2 separate regions of the Homo sapiens genome follow, and region 2 is linked to region 1. Evidence: fine-mapped expression QTL. Tissue or cell type: subcutaneous fat. Region 1 holds a variant in brackets; the other region holds the start of a gene. All regions are shown on one strand. Distances are from middle to middle.

Region 1 (8,109 bases):
GCCTGTGGTCCCAGCTATTCGGGAGGCTGAGGTGGGAGTATCACTTGAGCCCAGCGGGCAGAGGTTGCAATAAGCCGAGATCACATCACTGCACTTTCGAGTCTCTAAGACAATGTCTCAAAAAATAAATATATAAAAATAAAATGGTGTAGCAGCTTTGGAGTACAGTCTGGCGGTTCCCCAAAAAGTCAGAGTACCATATGACCCAGAGTTACCATATGACCCAGCTACCTCATTTCCTAGGTATATATTGTAAGAAAATTGAAAACATGTGTCCACTGTAAAACTTGTATATGAATGTTAATAGCAGTATTTTTCATAATAGCCAAAAAGTAAGAATAACCCAAATGTCTCTCAGCTGATGAATGGATACACAAAATGTAGCATATTCATACAGTGGATATTATTTGGCCATAAAAAAGAATGAAGTCCTGATATGCTAAGCATAGATTAACTTTGAAAACATTGTGGTAATTGAAGTAAACCAGTCACAAAAGACCACATATTGTATGATTCCATTTATATGAACTGTCCAGAATAAGCAAATCCGCAGAAACAAAGTAGGTTAGTGGTTGCCAAGAGCTGGGTGGTGTGGGGGGTGGTGGGGGAATGAGGACTGTTTATGGGGACTTTTTTTGGTGGGTGAAATGGTGGAAATGTTCTGGAATTGGTGGTGATTACGTAACTTGTGAATATACTAAAACCACTGAATTATATGCTCTGAAATGGTGAGTTTATGGTGTGTGAAAATTATACACTTTAAAAACTTGACTTTATGGTATGGACTTAGAGAGTAGTGCCCTGCTTTTTTCGGGAGGTGTTAGTTGTTTGTAGTTCCCCCCATACTCCTGTGAAGCCATCTAATTTTTACAGACAAAGCTAGTCTCTTACACCTTGTAAGTATAAGAATGGTTGTTAGTGTTCTGAGTGCCTACATAGCAAAGCTTATTGTGGGGTAGGCGTGTCTGCTCAGTATACAAAATTTAAATTTATTCTTTCATTTTCAGCCTGGCCTTACCCATGCCCTTTACTTTGCCTAAAGTCATGAAGTATATGGTCCTTTGCTCTGTAAAGTTCATTACATTCTCTATAGAATTTATTCTTTATAGAGTCATTTTCTATGTAGAATTCTCTGTAGTTGGTGATGGTGGAGGAACAGAAATCTCCTGGCTGTCAGAGGTGTAGAATCAATGACCCAGTTGTCTGTTTTACTATAATTAAACTGTTTTCCCTGCTTTCCCCAATATTTTGGTGCCTTTACTGCCTAGCTTCTTTCTGGGGTTTTCTTAAGACAAATCAGTTTCTCGTTTCTGTATCCCTCTGCAAATACTTAGTTCTTGGCTTCTTCCTGTTGTATGACTTGCCTTGCCTCTGATTTCTCTTTTCCAAAAATGCCTTGGCAACTCTAAACTGCTGTTCTCTCTTCTCCTGTTTTCTTTGCTGGTATTCACTTTTTAAATTTCTTACCTAAATACCCTGCAAAAACAACCCAAATGTCCAACCAGAAATTCAGGAATTAAAGTATATGATGAAGCCGAGCATGGTGGCTCGGCTTTGGGAGTCTGAGGTGGGCAGATCACTTGAGGCCAGGAGTTCAAGGCCAGCCTGGCCAACATGGTGAAACCCCATCTCTACTAAAAATACAAAAGTTAGCCAGGCATGGTGGTGCATGCATGTAGCCCAAGCTACTTGGGTGGCTGAGGCACAGGAATCGCTTGCACCCTGGAGACAGAGGTTGCAGTGAACTGAGATCACACAACTGTACTCTAGCTCAGGCGACAGAGCAAGACTCTTAAAAAATATATATATATTCATACCATGGAATGCAAGGGTTTAAAACAATGAAATGGAACTTTATGTACTGACATCGAAAGCTTTTTTTTATATGAACATGATTGTAAAAGAGTAAATATAATTTCAATCTGCTATTTTAAAACAGTACATTTCTAGATACATATTAAAAGTATGGAATCAGCTTCACAAAGTGCATCTCTAGATTACAGGCCTTTTTACTTCCAACATTTCATATTTTGCATTTTTATTATTTTTATTGTAAACATGTTTTAAATGTATGTTAGTTTGCAGAGATAATATAAGTAAAACTCAAATTGTATAAGTGAGTTTTTCAGACAATTTATTAATCTTGGGCAGAAACAATTAAGTGTTAACCATTTGGAATACAAATGTTTGTACGTTATGATATGTAATACTAAGCATAATTAAAACTTTGTAACTTTGCTGTCATCTTTTTGATTATCAGATTGGTGCCTTTTTATACCAGAATTATTTCTTGTTTTTCCTCTCTTCCAATTTGTTTGGCTTAGAAACAAAATAATAGAAAAATGATAGTAGTAATAGCAGCTAATAGCACTTATTGAACACTAACTACATACGAAGCACTGTGCTGAAGTGCTTTAGATGTTTGGTTATCTATTTATTTATTTATTTATTTATTTTTGAGATGGAGTCTTGCTCTTGTTGCCCAGGCTGGAGTGCAGTGGTGCAATCTTGGCTCACTGCAGCCTCTGCCTCCCGGGTTCAAGCAATTCTCCTGCCTCAGCCTCTGAAGCAGCTGGGATTACAGGCATGCGCCACCACTCCTGGCTAATTTTTTTATTTTTAGTAGAGATGGGGTTTCACCATGTTGGTCAGGCTGGACTCCAACTCCTGACCTCAGGTGATCCACCTACCTTGGCCTCCCAAAATGCTAGGATTACAGGCATGAGCCACTGCGCCTGGCCATCAATTTAAATTTCAAAATAGTTCACTGAGGCCTAAATACTACTATACCAATTTTACAGACAAACTGAGGCAGAGGTATTAAACCACTTGCCCAAGGTTTTGTGTTTTTTTTTGTTTTTCTTTTTGTTTTGAGATGGAGTCTTGCTCTGTTGCCCAGGCTAGAGTGCAGTGGTGCAATCTCCACCTCCTGGGTTCAAGAGATGCTCGTCCCTCAGCCTCCCGAGTAGCTGGGACTACAGGTGCCTGCCATCACGCCAGGCTAATTTTTGTATTTTTGGTAGAGATAGGGTTTTGCTATGTTGGCCAGGCTGGTTTTGAACTCATTATCTCTCAGGTGACCCATCCGCCTCGATCTCCCAAAGTGCTGGGATTACAGGCATAAGCCCAGCCCCAAAGTTTTGTTTTTGTTTTTGTTTTTTTTTACATAAAACGTGGTGTCATTAGAATTTGACATCAGACCTACAGTTAGCCTATTTTTAACAATTTAGCCATATTGCTTCTTGCATATCCAGACTTAAGATGTGTGTGTGATTAAGTTGAGAAACAGATTCTCAGACAGGTATATAAGTCTTTCTGATAACTGTTTCTAGCTGCCCAGAGGCCTTTTTTTGGTTGGTTAATATTATACTGATTTGGTTACATTCTGGTAAAACCCGATACCTCAGTACTTCAGGTATGAAGTATGAGTTACTTCAGTTGTATTTGTTTTATCTCCTAGAGGTCTGAAGGGTTTGAACTAAATACAGTGTTTACAGTAGCCCTCTTAACCTATAGGACATAAGTTTTCATGGGATTGGCTCAAAATGAATGAAACCCTGTGGATGTGTAATTTTCTGGAGAGTACCCAGAGTTTTTCTAGGATTTTCACAGAGGTCTGTTACTCATCAAAGGCCAAGACCACGAATTACCTCATCCTTATTGTTCTTTTGGTCAGCGAGCTAGCCCTAAATGTTTTACTTATTATTTTATAGGAATCATTTCATGTGTTTATCTCCAGCCATTTAAGCTGTACTTCAAAAGCACAATGAAAATAATGTGTACTTAGTGATGAAATATACACAAGATGAACAAAGACTACAAGGGGCTTTCTTGTGGTAATGAAATTAGAGAAATGAACCAGTTCATCTCCAATGTCCTTTCCAGCTTCCAAATGTTATTAATTGTTATCCCTACTGTTTGGAAAAGTAGACATTTTCCCACAGTAAAATTTTGCAGAATTGAGTTTTGAAGTATCATTAATAATCCAAGAACCAGATAGAAAAGTTAAGGGTTACTGCAAGTGCTACCAATTACTACTCAAACGTTCATAATTTCAAGCAGTTCCTTTATCAAATTCAAATGTTAATTTCTGATATGATTTAGAAAAACGATTTCTGATATTTTTACAAGTGATTGTATTTGTACTAAAAGCTCTTTTTTGTTATATATGTTTAAAGAAAAAATTTTTAAATTCTTCAATAGGGAAGTTTGGTTGGCTTAGTGGATTATCCAGATGATGAAGAGGAAGATGAAGAAGAAGAATCGTCCCCCAGGAAAAGACCTCGTCTTGGCTCATAAAATATTTATTAGGGGACCCTCAACATGTGGTCTTACAATGCTGCAACTGTTCAGTGAGCTGAAAATCTGAATCAGAAAGCTTTCTCAATTGAACTTATAAAATATACAAGGAGTAGCAAAAGACAGTATATCAGCTAAGAGAGTTTAGTTCTAATAAAAATCAGGCTTCCCAGGAACTTGATTGCTTGCTAGTAATTAAGGGGTTTGCCTTTTAGGCTGTCAAAACAAACATTAGTAACCAGAACCTGGGAGA[C/T]AGCTTCTCAGCAAGGAAAAGTCACAGGTTTGGGGACGGTTTAGGGGAGGGGAAAAGGTTGATATAATAATGCAGGGTTGCTCCTCGGGGTGTCGATCTAGAAACAATTTTACAGAACTTCAGTTGTAAACTCAATAACATTACTTGTATAATGGTGCTGGCCATGTTGTTGTTTTAATCAGTTGCCTCTTTTTAAAAGAAATTTTTATGGAAAACACATTCAACTATCATTAAAAAAATGAAGTTAAGCTGTTGGGACCATTTCTTTAAGATTTAACAAAAGTTCAGCCTTTTAGGTAGTTGAAGGGAAGTACACCCCGTATTCAGCACATGTTGAGTTTTCTACACCAGGAATTTTCAATATGTATATTGATGAAAACAAGCTCAATTCAAACTGGACAGTTTTAAGATAATGTTAAAATCAGCACTTTTAGAGACAACGAAGGCCAAGAATCAGTACAGTAGTATTCCAAAATGATTTTCTCTAGAAATTTGAAAGTAGATCGAACAGAATGTTGTCAACCGCCTACCAGTACAATCTTTTGTGGAAGATACTTTGAAATCACTTTCTACTTTGTTAGTAAAGTTCTGTCTTTCCAGAGCTGCAAGTTTTAAAGTGTTACTTATACAGACCAACCAAGAATAGTGCTGAATTAAGTGGCATTTAGTATCTAGAAGCCATTTTGATCCAAGAAGCTACTTAAGTGTCAAAGTCAGCATGCAGCACATGTAGCTTTTCTGTAAACAAGGGTGTGATATGAAAGCTGCTTTTTTAAGAAGAGTAAAAGCACATTCCATATACGTAAGTGAATTTTAAAAATAAATTGAGGCAAACAGTTAAGTTTTATTTTTAGAGCAACAAGTTAACTGTAAATATTTTAATGTTAGTTTGCTCATCTATGATCTGAGATCATGCCGAAGTGAGAAAAATCTCCCCAAAATACAATTTAATGCATTGGGAAAAAAAAACTTTAACAGTAATTCCAGCCACAATCTTTAGATCACCCTTGTAATGTGTTACGGGTCCATTTTTCCTGGAATCGTTTAATCTAAAGCAGTTTCCCCTGTTTTGGAGATTTTGTAGTTAATTTTAATTTTGGCTATTGTTTGGAAAAGATGAGCTGTCTGTGTAGATATGAAGTATAGTTTTTTCCATAAAACAGATGTTTATTTTGTATTAAAAAATACCACTGTACTTGTTTTACACCATTTGTATACATGTGGTGATATTAATGCTAAACTGTAAAATTCAGGAATTAAAATGTGACCCTGTAATTCCATAATTGATGTTTGTGTTTGGTTTGTTGTAAATATAAATTAACTCCATTTTGAGATATGTCAATTTTACAGTATCTTTTAAAAGCCAATAAAATTATCCATAAATATTTATTATAAACTGCTAGATCATACCCCAATTTTAATGAAATAATTCTAAACAAATGCGGGTCAATGGCACTTTATCAGTGACTACTTATAGAAGGTAAGCCTTGGGGAAATCATAGCATCACAGTATGGAGCTTTTCTCACCTTTTCAATTAAAGGTGTACATATAGTAAGAAAGAAAGACCTTCCACCTCATAAGGCAGGTGACTCAGGATATTTTAAACTAAGATCAGTAAAGTTCCCATCCACTTTCTTTGAATCATCAAATTTTATCGAGACCCATCTCTCAGCTTTTAGTAAATTTCTTCTTAAAATAAGCCCACATGTAAAACACTTTCCTAGTTACTTTTTGTTTGTTTGTTTGAGTCTCGCTCTGTTGCCCAGGCTGGAGTGTAGTTGCACGATTTCGGCTTATTGCAACATCCGCCACCTGGGTTCAAGCAATTCTCTGCCTCAGCCTGAGTAGCTGGGATTACAGGTGCCCGTCACCATGCCAGGCTAATTTTTGTATTTTCAGTAGAGACGGGGTTTCACCATCTTGGCCAGGCTGGTCTTAAACTCCTGACCTCACAATCCACCCGCCTCAGCCTCCCTATCTCTGTATCTTATGAAGACTTCCTTTTTCTTTCTGAAGAGCTGCCATAAGTCTTAAACATTTAAATCATCAGAACCTTTTCTTGTAGCAGAAATGTGAATGTTTTCTTGAAGTACAGGTTACGGTTTTCATGGTACAAGTGCTTACCTACGACGATAAGAGAACAAGGCTTAAAATATCCCTCAAAAGAACAATTGTGAGAATTCCATGTTAGCGGCTGTCTTTAAACGACTACCCTCAGGCAGATCTGGGTTTTTATATCTTTATCTTCATTCAGTGAAGCAAGCCAAAAGCCCACATTTGTATGCCTTAGGTCTTCTTAAAATGGTATCTGTAAACATGTGTCCAATATAAAAACTATTTTTAATAAAAAGTTACATGAAACAGATTTCTGTGTTTTAATCACTAGCATTTCCTCTTAGCCATCTAGTGATGAAAATATAACAAATGTAAATACTGGTTTTCCTGCAGGGGAAAGTTTGGAATTGTGTAACTGAAATGAGTAAATCCTGTTACACTAATTTTGGTATCCTTTTTTAAAAGTTTATAATGGTAGACTTAAGGAGATAAAATGTGATTATAAGTTAAATCTCAGGAGTATCCTGTACTTAGAAAAGGGTGGACGTGGGATATTACAAGACTGGAAGTTTTTTGTTTGTTTGTTTGTTTTTTGGAGATGGAGTCTTGCTCTGTTGTTGCCCAGGCTGGAGTGCAGTGGTGTGATTTCGCTCACTGCAACTTCCACCTCCCAGGTTGAAGCGAGTCTCCAGCCTCAGCCACCCGAGTAGCTGGCATTACAGGCATGCACCACCACGCCCAGCTAATTTTTGTATTTTAGTAGAGATGGGGTTTCACCATGTTGGTCGGGCTGGTCTTGAACTCCTGACCTCAAGTGATCTGCACCCCCTCAGCCTCCCAAAATGTTGGGATTACAGGCATGAGCCACCATGCCTGGCCTTTTTTATTTTATTTTTTTTATATGGAGTCTTGCTCTGTCACCCAGGCTGGAATGCAGTGGCGTGAGCTCGGGTTCAATGCAACCTCCGCCTCCCGGGTTCAAGCGATTCTCCTGCTGCAGCCTTCCAAGTAGCTGGGATTACAGTTACCCGCCACTACACCTGGCTAATTTTTGTATTTTTAGTTGAGACGGAGTTTCACCATGTTGGCCAGGCTGGTCTCCTGACCTCAAGTGATCCTCCTGCGTCGGCCTCCCAAAGTGCTGGGATTACAGGCATGAGCCACCACACCCGGCCTGCAAGTTTCTGAAAGAAAGGTCTCCTATTATTGTGGTTTATCTTTAAACAAACAGACTACAGAAATCTTAGGGTCACTTCTCTTAAACACCAACACCCAGTGGTGGCATCTCCTTCAACAGGCTCAATCGATTATTCCCTTTGCCTGTGTTTTAGTAAGAGTTTGTCTAGAAAGAGTGAGTATTTTTTACATCCCGCACATCTATTTTCCAAGTCCTATTTGCTCCTGCCTCGTATAAGTGTAAATGATAAATGTAAAATCTACCTTACCACTGCCCAAGTTATCTCTACCCTTGATTGGACTGTCTCATACATGGTACACCCAC
Region 2 (8,109 bases), 68 kb before region 1:
AGGTTGAAAAACTTTGCTCTAGGAAATTAACCTACAAAGATATTGGCACACATAAAACAACTTTTGCACAATCATATGTTTGAAATTACGAACCATTGGAAATGACACAAATATACAATAAATGAGTTAAATAAATTAGGGTACATTTGTACAGTTGATGCAGGATTTTTCTTGGCCACTTTGACAGCTGGAGACCTCCGGCCAGCAACACCCCAACTACTCGGCCCACCAGGATGTGTCTGGCTTGTGCTCAGGCACGAATCCTGCAGCCACCATGGCCTCAGCCCCTGGCAGGAGGGGGTGTGTGAGTGAACGAGTACAGGGCAGGAGTGGGCTCTGTGCGGGGCTTGTGGCTGGACCAGGTGTGTCACATTGAGGGAAATGTGGTGGCACCCAAACAGGGGTGCTCATGACCCTGAAGCCCCAGAGGTGTTACAGTATGCTAAGCACTCTTTTAGTTCTGCCGTCTGCAGGCCAACGGACAGTGGCATGTTAACAGCTCTATCAGTCCCATTGCCCCACTCAGGCCCGTGGCTTCAGGACTGGCTCTGCCCCACTGCTGCTTCCCATCGCGTTGTGTGGGACGGTTGCCCTCCACCAGCAGAGGGCAAAGGGCCACAGTGTGTACAGCCTTCTTTGTATCTGCGTTTGGTGGGTCCCGAATTTTTCTTCAGCGTCCAAGAATGAGGTTACGCTGACAATCAAAGGGTGAGGAGGGTGGAGAAGAGTTTTATTTGAACTATGAAACAGCTCTCAGGAGAGAGAGGATGCAAGGGTGGTCCCTCACTCAAAGTCAGGTGGTCTCTCTCTCAGTGCGGCTGAGTCCACAGCTTTTATGGGCTCAGAATGAAGGCGTGCATGCTGATTGGTTTGTGAGTATGCAAAAAAGGCTAAAACAACAGCACCACTCAAAGGTAGGTACAACAGTGTAAAAAAACAATTAGGAAAGGATATGTGTAAAATAGGTGAAGGGTGGGGATCAATCAGAAGAAAGCACGCCAAATGGGAAGAGAGGTTCTCAATCTGGTCTGTGGATTTATCCTGGTCTTGTGGCTAGCCTTTAAACTGTCCTCAGCTTGAAGGGTTTCACCAGGGACCTGCCCCTGTCTGCCTAGGATTTGTCTGCCTTTTGCGGCTATCACAGTGGGATACTATGTAGCCATTAAGTAGAATGAGTTAGCTCTATATACACACTGACCCAAAAAAGGCTGTCCTGGGCACGGTGGCTCACCCCTGTAATCCCAGTATTTTGGGAGGCTGAGGCAGGTGGATCACATGAGGTCAAGAGTTTGAGACCAGCCTCACCAACATGGTGAAACCCCATCTCTACTAAAAATACAAAAATTAGCTGGGCGTGGTGGCGGACACCTATAATCCCAGCTACTCAGGAGGATGAGGCAGGAGAATCGTTAGAATCCGGGAGACGGAGGTTGCAGTGAGCCGAGATGACACCTCTGCACTCCAGCCTGGACTGTGTATGGAAAAAAAGAAAGAAAAAAAAAGTGGGGGACAGGGGTTCAGATATGGTGGCTCACACTTGTAATCCCAGCACTTTGGGAGGTCAAAGCAGGCAGATCCCTTAAGCTCAGGAGTGTGAGACCAGCCTGGGCACCAACATGTAGAGACCCTGTCTCCACAAAAAATAAAAAGGAAGGAAAAGAATAGTATTCCATTACAGTCATGTGTCCCTTAACAATGGGGATGCTTTCTGAAAAATGCATCATCAGGTGATTTTTTGTTGTGTGAACATCATAGAGTGTACCTAAACAAACCTAGATGGTAGCCTACTACAGAGGTCCCCAACCTTTTTGACACCAGGGACTGGTTTTGTGGAAGACAATTTTTCCATGGAAAGGGGGAGTTGGATTCTCATAAGGAGTGCACAGGTTAGATCCCTTGCATGTGCAGTTTACAATAGGGTTCTCACTCCTACCAGAATGTAATGCCCCTGCTCATCTGACAGGGGGCAGAGCTCAGGCCGAAATGCTGGCTCCCCTGCCACTCACCTTCTGCTGTGCCGCCCAGTTCCTAACAGGCCCTGGACCACTACTGGACCACTACATACATATCTACATATAATTACCTGTATATGCATAGAATATCTCTGGAATAGGACTAGATACATACTTTGTGGGCCCAGTGCAAAATAAAACCGCAGGGCCCTTGTCCAGAAACTTTCCTGAATTTCAAGTTAGTGACAGCAAAACATTAAACCAAGTGCCTATCTGTACAGGTCACCACCATGAAGCCAGCCCTGCTCTGGCAACATACACAGGAAAATGGAATAGAGGTGATTCCAAGAGGAAAATTCTATGAGTGGCAGGAGACAAAGACTAAAAGAAGACTTAGTTTTCACTATATATCTTTGCCTTTTTTTTTTTTTTTTTTTTTGAGACAGTCTGTCACACTGTCCCCCAGGCTGGAGTGCAGTGGTGCAATCTTGGCTCACTGCAACCTCTGCCTCCCAGGTTGAAGCGATTCTCCTACCTCGGCCTCCCAAGTAGCTGGGATTACAGGCCCCCACCACCACGCCCAGCTGATTTTTGTATTTTTAGCAGAGACAGGGTTTCACCACGTTGGCCTGGCTGGTCTGGATCTCCTGACCTCGGGCAATCTGCCCACCTCGCCCTCCCAAAGTGCTGGGATTACAGGCGTGAGCCACCATGCCCGGCCTCTCTTTTTAATTTCATATGTGTAAAGGCATTACTTATTCAAAACAACAAAAAAGGAAGATTGTGGGCTTATTTGGTTAGCAACTCTTTGAAGTGGAACTTTGATGACTGCCTGAAGCAAAGAACATCTGCTGGGGAAGATGTGGTTATGGGGGGCCCTCAGACTTGGATAAGCACTGAGCCCTGTGCTTTGGAGGGGTCTGAAATCCATGGAATCATGGGACTGTAGCCACCTGCAGCCCACTTTCCCTTTTCCAGACCATGCTGTGGGCACTCTAGTATTCCCTATCCCAAACGCCAAGCCTGACTCCAGGGTCTGCACAATCCTCTTCCCAAGTTCAGTCTTCCTGGGGAGTAACCAAAGGGTGAGGCTTGGACAGAAGGCTGGAGAGTCTAACATCAGGCTCAAAAATTGTGTGAAGCATTCTCTGACTCTTCCAAGACAGAAATGTTATTTTCTCTGAGGTCAAAATACATTTTGTCCACTTTCATCACATCAATTAATTGGCTCTATTGTTATGTATTATATTATGATGATTTTCTTCAAGTACATTTTCTGAGGTCTCTAGATTAAAAAAAAAAACTATGAATCCAGATTTTGAAATTATTTCTATCAGCATGTGTTCTGTACACTGACCCACGTTGTAGTGTACTGCTGAAGGGTGTCCACACTTAAGCGATCTGGTCAAAACATAAGCACGTTTTAACAAGACCATTGATTAGTTATGACTACAACTCCCAAGATGCACTGCAGGGTCAGTGTGCGCGTCTCGCCTAGTTTTCACCGATCAGGCTAATGAGCTGCACAGAAGTGGCAGCTGAACAAGCTGAGAGACTGTATTAAAGAACGAATATAGCGGGGATGGGGAGCAGGCGTCTACGGTCCCAGCTACTCGGGAGGCTGAGGTGAGAGGATCGCTTGAGCCCTCAAGGCGGAGGCTACAGTGAGTCGAGATAGCGCCATTGCACTCTAGCCTGGGAAGCAGAGAGAGACTATCAAAAACAACAAAACGAATAAAGGGATTCTACCAAGAGTGAGCTGGACTGAAATAAACGACACGCTACTACGACCCAGCGCGTGACTATATCCACCGCACAATGTGCGATAATAGCCTCAATGCAGAGAGAATTCCTCCTTTCCTTATTCAGTGCAAGAGAGCCCTATAGAGAACGCAGGAAATGCCCGCGAGAAACTGAGAAGTATCAAAACAATCACAGATATGTTAGGAAAGTAGCTCCCCGCCACTTCCCTAAACTTATCATAGCAGACTTACTTTCCAAGGTTACAAACACAAGAAGAGCACTGTATTTTCATGAAGCGGAAAATGTGCTTTACAATCGCCAGCTACTAAGAGCCTTAACGGTGAAGCGCTCTGCAAGAAACAGGAAATCGTCAACACACTTTCTGCATGAATTGCCTGGAGAGTTGTGTCCATAGACAATTCCTGGTTAGATGCTTAATTGTAGCAGACTCCATAACGGGGTTTAGCGGGTTTCCATTCGGCAGAAAGGGCTCCACGTTCTTTTTCACAGAAAGGTTTAAACTTATTTTTCCTCCTCAGGCGGACGAAGTGAGCGTCGTTCCGTGAAGGTATGAAACCCTTTTCCTTCCTTTCTGTCCCTGGTTACTCCGGTTCAAGGCTACGTACTTCCCCGGTTTGCTTTGTTTTTTCCTCAGAGCTAAGTTCCTAGGAACGTCACATACTGGTGCCATCCAACAACATGACGACGTGCGGAACCGAAGTCCCCTTCCACCTAGCGGCCTCTCGCGGCGCAGGCGTGGACGGGGAGATCGCGAGAACCTCCCGCCCAATTGCGACCCCGCGCCAAGAGGCGGGGCCGAAAGAGGAGGAAGTCGGGCCGAAAGAGGAGGAAGTCTCGCCGAAGTACTCCCGCCCCAGTCGGTACCCCTCCTCGCGAGAGCGCCGAGCATTCCGGCCTGGGAAGCGCGTGCAGAAGCGGAGGTGCTGCTCATGGGACTTGTCGGCCGCCGTAGCCCCTGCTAGGACAGCCCGTGCGAGCCTGCTGGAGGAGGAAGAGAAAGGCAGAGAGAGTCGGGTTACAAGATGGCGGATCTGTAGTAGTTACCGCGGCGGCGGGAGAGCAAGCGAGCCCTGGGGGGCAAAGAGACGGGAGAGTGGGTGTATGCGCGGGTGAAGTGAGAGGTAACGGGGCCTCCGGGCGGAGAGGCCTCAGTGGCTCTTGTCACCCCTTCTCGCGGCTGAACCTTTGGAGCCATGGTGAATTCGGGCCTCTCCGAAGCCGCCGCCGCCGCCACCGCCACTACTGCCTTTACCGTCTCCTAAGAGTGAGGAGCGCGGACGAGGTAAGCGAGGAGGCGGCGGCTAGAGCGGTGGAGACAGCAGCCACCATGTCGGATACGCGGCGGCGAGTGAAGGTCTATACCCTGAACGAAGACCGGCAATGGGACGACCGAGGCACCGGGCACGTCTCCTCCACTTACGTGGAGGAGCTCAAGGGGATGTCGCTGCTGGTTCGGGCAGAGTCCGACGGTAAGGTTATCGGAACTGTAGAATAGGGGATAGTGCCTCTGGTTGGGGCACAGCTTGGGTTTAGGGCCCTGGGCCCGTTACCGTTGCTACTCCTTCGGGACAGCGCGTTGGTTCTGAACTGGCTCTTGTGTACGGCAAAAACAAAGTACTGTACTTTTGACTGGACTTATCCTCGGAGACCGAGACTCTCTGTCCTTCTCCCATCTCTCTTAAGGATTGGACTCCTTCCTTTCCAGTCCCTCCTCTTTTGAAGAGGGGAGAGTGTGAGAGAGAAGGGAGGAAGTAGTGAGAGACTAGGTACTGATGTCGCCCTAGGAGCTGACACCTTCCTCCCCCTTTATTTACTTATCCATTATACGTCTAGTACAAACGGTTTAGGGAAACTTTTCTTTCCGAGTGTTTTTAAAAAAAAAAAATTGTACCAACGGGCCCCAGGTGCCACAGTCGACAGGTGCTGGGGAAAACCGAAAGGCACGTTTTCCTGGCTGTATTGCTGACTGTTGCCACGATACATGGACACACAAGCACATACATCTGTAGTCTGCATTTCTTCGGGCTGCCTTTGTAGAAGGCGCTATGAGAAAGTGAATGCCTTACAATCTAAGCAAGTTGGGACACCAAAGCAGGTTGTAAACTGCTGTGTTCTTTGGTTTATTGTAGTCATGTGAAGTATTTTAAATTACAAAATGTAGAGCCGTAATTAAAATGCCTTTTATAGTATAATCTGGACTTGATTTGAACAACTGATATAGGCAGTTAGAAAAATAATCTTAGGTTTAGTCTTGACATATTTTGTATTCTTGCTTGTTCCCTTTTATTTTAAATAGTCATCACTTCTACAGAAGGTGTTCTTTTGTTCTTAATGAGGAAAGGATAAATGCAGCACTGTAATTTCTATACTAAGTATTTAATCCCTGTCATGATGTTTTTGTTTTGTAATTTGCATTATTTGTTAAACTGGGAATGCAATAAAACAACTTTTGTTAAAACGAATGGCTTGAAGTGGTCATTTAGACCTTAAAATTTTTATTTCAATAAAATTTTAATAGTCATCTAGTCTCCTCATTCCTTGGTTTGATTGTTGGTTTTAGATTAATTTTTCCTTTAAGGGTGTATGGGAATAGGGTGAAATATTTTAGATTAAATGTGAAGCCTAGATTTGGAGAGAAAATGTGAATTCGAATACATTTTATTAAGATGTCCAACTCGGTAAAAAGACTTGAAAAGTTTGCGGGGGCGGGGGGCGGGGTTTAAATGTGTATTTTTTTTTTTTTTTTTTTTTTTTTGGAGACAGAGTCTTGCTCTGTTGCCAGGCTGGAGTTCAATGGCGCGATCTGGGCTACTGCAACCTCTGCCTCCTCTCCCTCTCTCTCAAGCGATTCTCCTGCCCCACCCTCCCGTGTACCTGGGACTACAGGCATGCGCCACCACGCCCAGCTAATTTTTGTATTTTTAGTAGAGACGGTTTCACCATGTTGGCTGGAATGGTCTGGATCTCTTGACCTCGTGATCTGCCCGCCTCCCAAAGTGCTAGGATTACAGACGTGAGCCACTGCGCCCGGCTTTAATGTGTATTCTAATTTTTATTCAGGGTTTTATCATTTGAGACTTATGATGTATTATTTTTTATCTTTCAGGATCACTACTCTTGGAATCAAAGATAAATCCAAATACTGCATATCAGAAACAACAGGCAAGTAGTTGTTTATCTTTAATTTGAAAGACTTCATCTGTGATCAAGGAAGTATTAATCTGACAAAGGTGGGAAAGCTTTCCTGACAAGAAAAAAACATGTTTGGTAAACAAAGATCATGTGTATTTCTCTTGCAGGTTAAAAGTTTCAGACTGAAAAAAAGTTTTTGTACTGGTGATAATTATCATTTTTGGATTGAGCCACTGTCGGTTTATTCTAAGATGTATTTATTAGTATTATTTAACTGTAGTTAGCCAAGTCTCTTCTATACCTTGTACATGAAACCTTTTATTCTGAGTCACGTTTAAAGGAAATGACATAGAACAAAATTCAAAGGGATACTCTTAAAGCAAGGAAAGCCTGTTTGTGGTGTGAAATTAAATCCTTTGACTCAAGTAAAGGTAGAGGTTTTGAAGTAGAAGCATTAAATCCTGCTCTTTAATTGTTGTGTATTTTTAATATAGTAATCAATGGATACTTTATAAAAATGTACATTACCAAGTATGTAACATCTTCTGTTAATATTGTCTTATTTGGGAAAGAAAATGTGTATTGTATTTTAGCACGCCTGATTAATCTGAAAATGGTAGCAGTGATTCAATCTTTTTTATTCTGTGAATGTTTTTGTTTTTATTATGAAATATATTAAAATTGAAAAGTACAGAGAATAATCGGTGTCTACTGTAACACCACCAGATTTAACAATGTTAATGTTACGCCATATTTGTTTCAAATATTTTTGTAATATTGAACATTATGGATAGAGTTAAAGCTTGTTTGTATCCATCCCGTTGTTTACATTCTCCATCCCCTACATAGGTAACCACTATTCTGAAGTTGATGTGTATTCTTTGTGTACATGCTTTTATACCTTTTCTGCATATGTATGTATCCATAAATAATATGTAGTCTGTTGTGTGTTTTTAAACTTTACACAGTGGATGTCATACTCTTACATGTATTCTGCAGCTTGCATTTTTCACACATTCATTTTGAATATTCGTTCATGTTAACAATGTAGATCTAGTTTTCTTTTTAAACTCTGTATAGTATTCTTATGTATGACATACACTTGTTGTTATACATTTGAATTATTTCCAGGTATTCTTTTTTGTGTGTGGTATGTAAAGTCACGATGGCAGAGATTTTTGAAGGAAGATAAATTATTTTAGGATTACATTTACAGCGTCAGTGCCCACTTCAAGGTTTATGAAAATTTGGATGCCCAGAA

The links. PIP is the estimated chance that this variant, and not a neighbour inherited with it, causes the effect.
Region 2: it holds the start of PPP4R3B, and the variant in region 1 is fine-mapped to the expression of PPP4R3B in subcutaneous fat (FUSION, PIP 0.95).

Annotation. Positions count from the first base shown.
Region 1 is chr2:55,546,101-55,554,209 of GRCh38, reverse strand. PPP4R3B (protein phosphatase 4 regulatory subunit 3B) reads left to right here. Exons shown (of 17, transcript NM_001122964.3): 17 at 4,204-6,918. The coding sequence ends at 4,299. Among named protein-coding and RNA genes, the nearest start is that of CFAP36, 30 kb to the right of the region's middle. The variant C/T (reference allele first, on the strand shown) is at 4,553.
Region 2 is chr2:55,614,220-55,622,328 of GRCh38, reverse strand. PPP4R3B (protein phosphatase 4 regulatory subunit 3B) reads left to right here and starts at 4,707. Exons shown (of 17, transcript NM_001122964.3): 1 at 4,707-5,185; 2 at 6,823-6,878. The coding sequence starts at 5,044. It overlaps PPP4R3B-DT (PPP4R3B divergent transcript), which reads right to left and starts at 4,399. Exons shown (of 3, transcript NR_186624.1): 1 at 3,947-4,399. RefSeq lists a silencer at 1,842-1,891 and enhancers at 4,337-4,386, 4,407-4,806, 3,900-4,824, 4,825-5,751.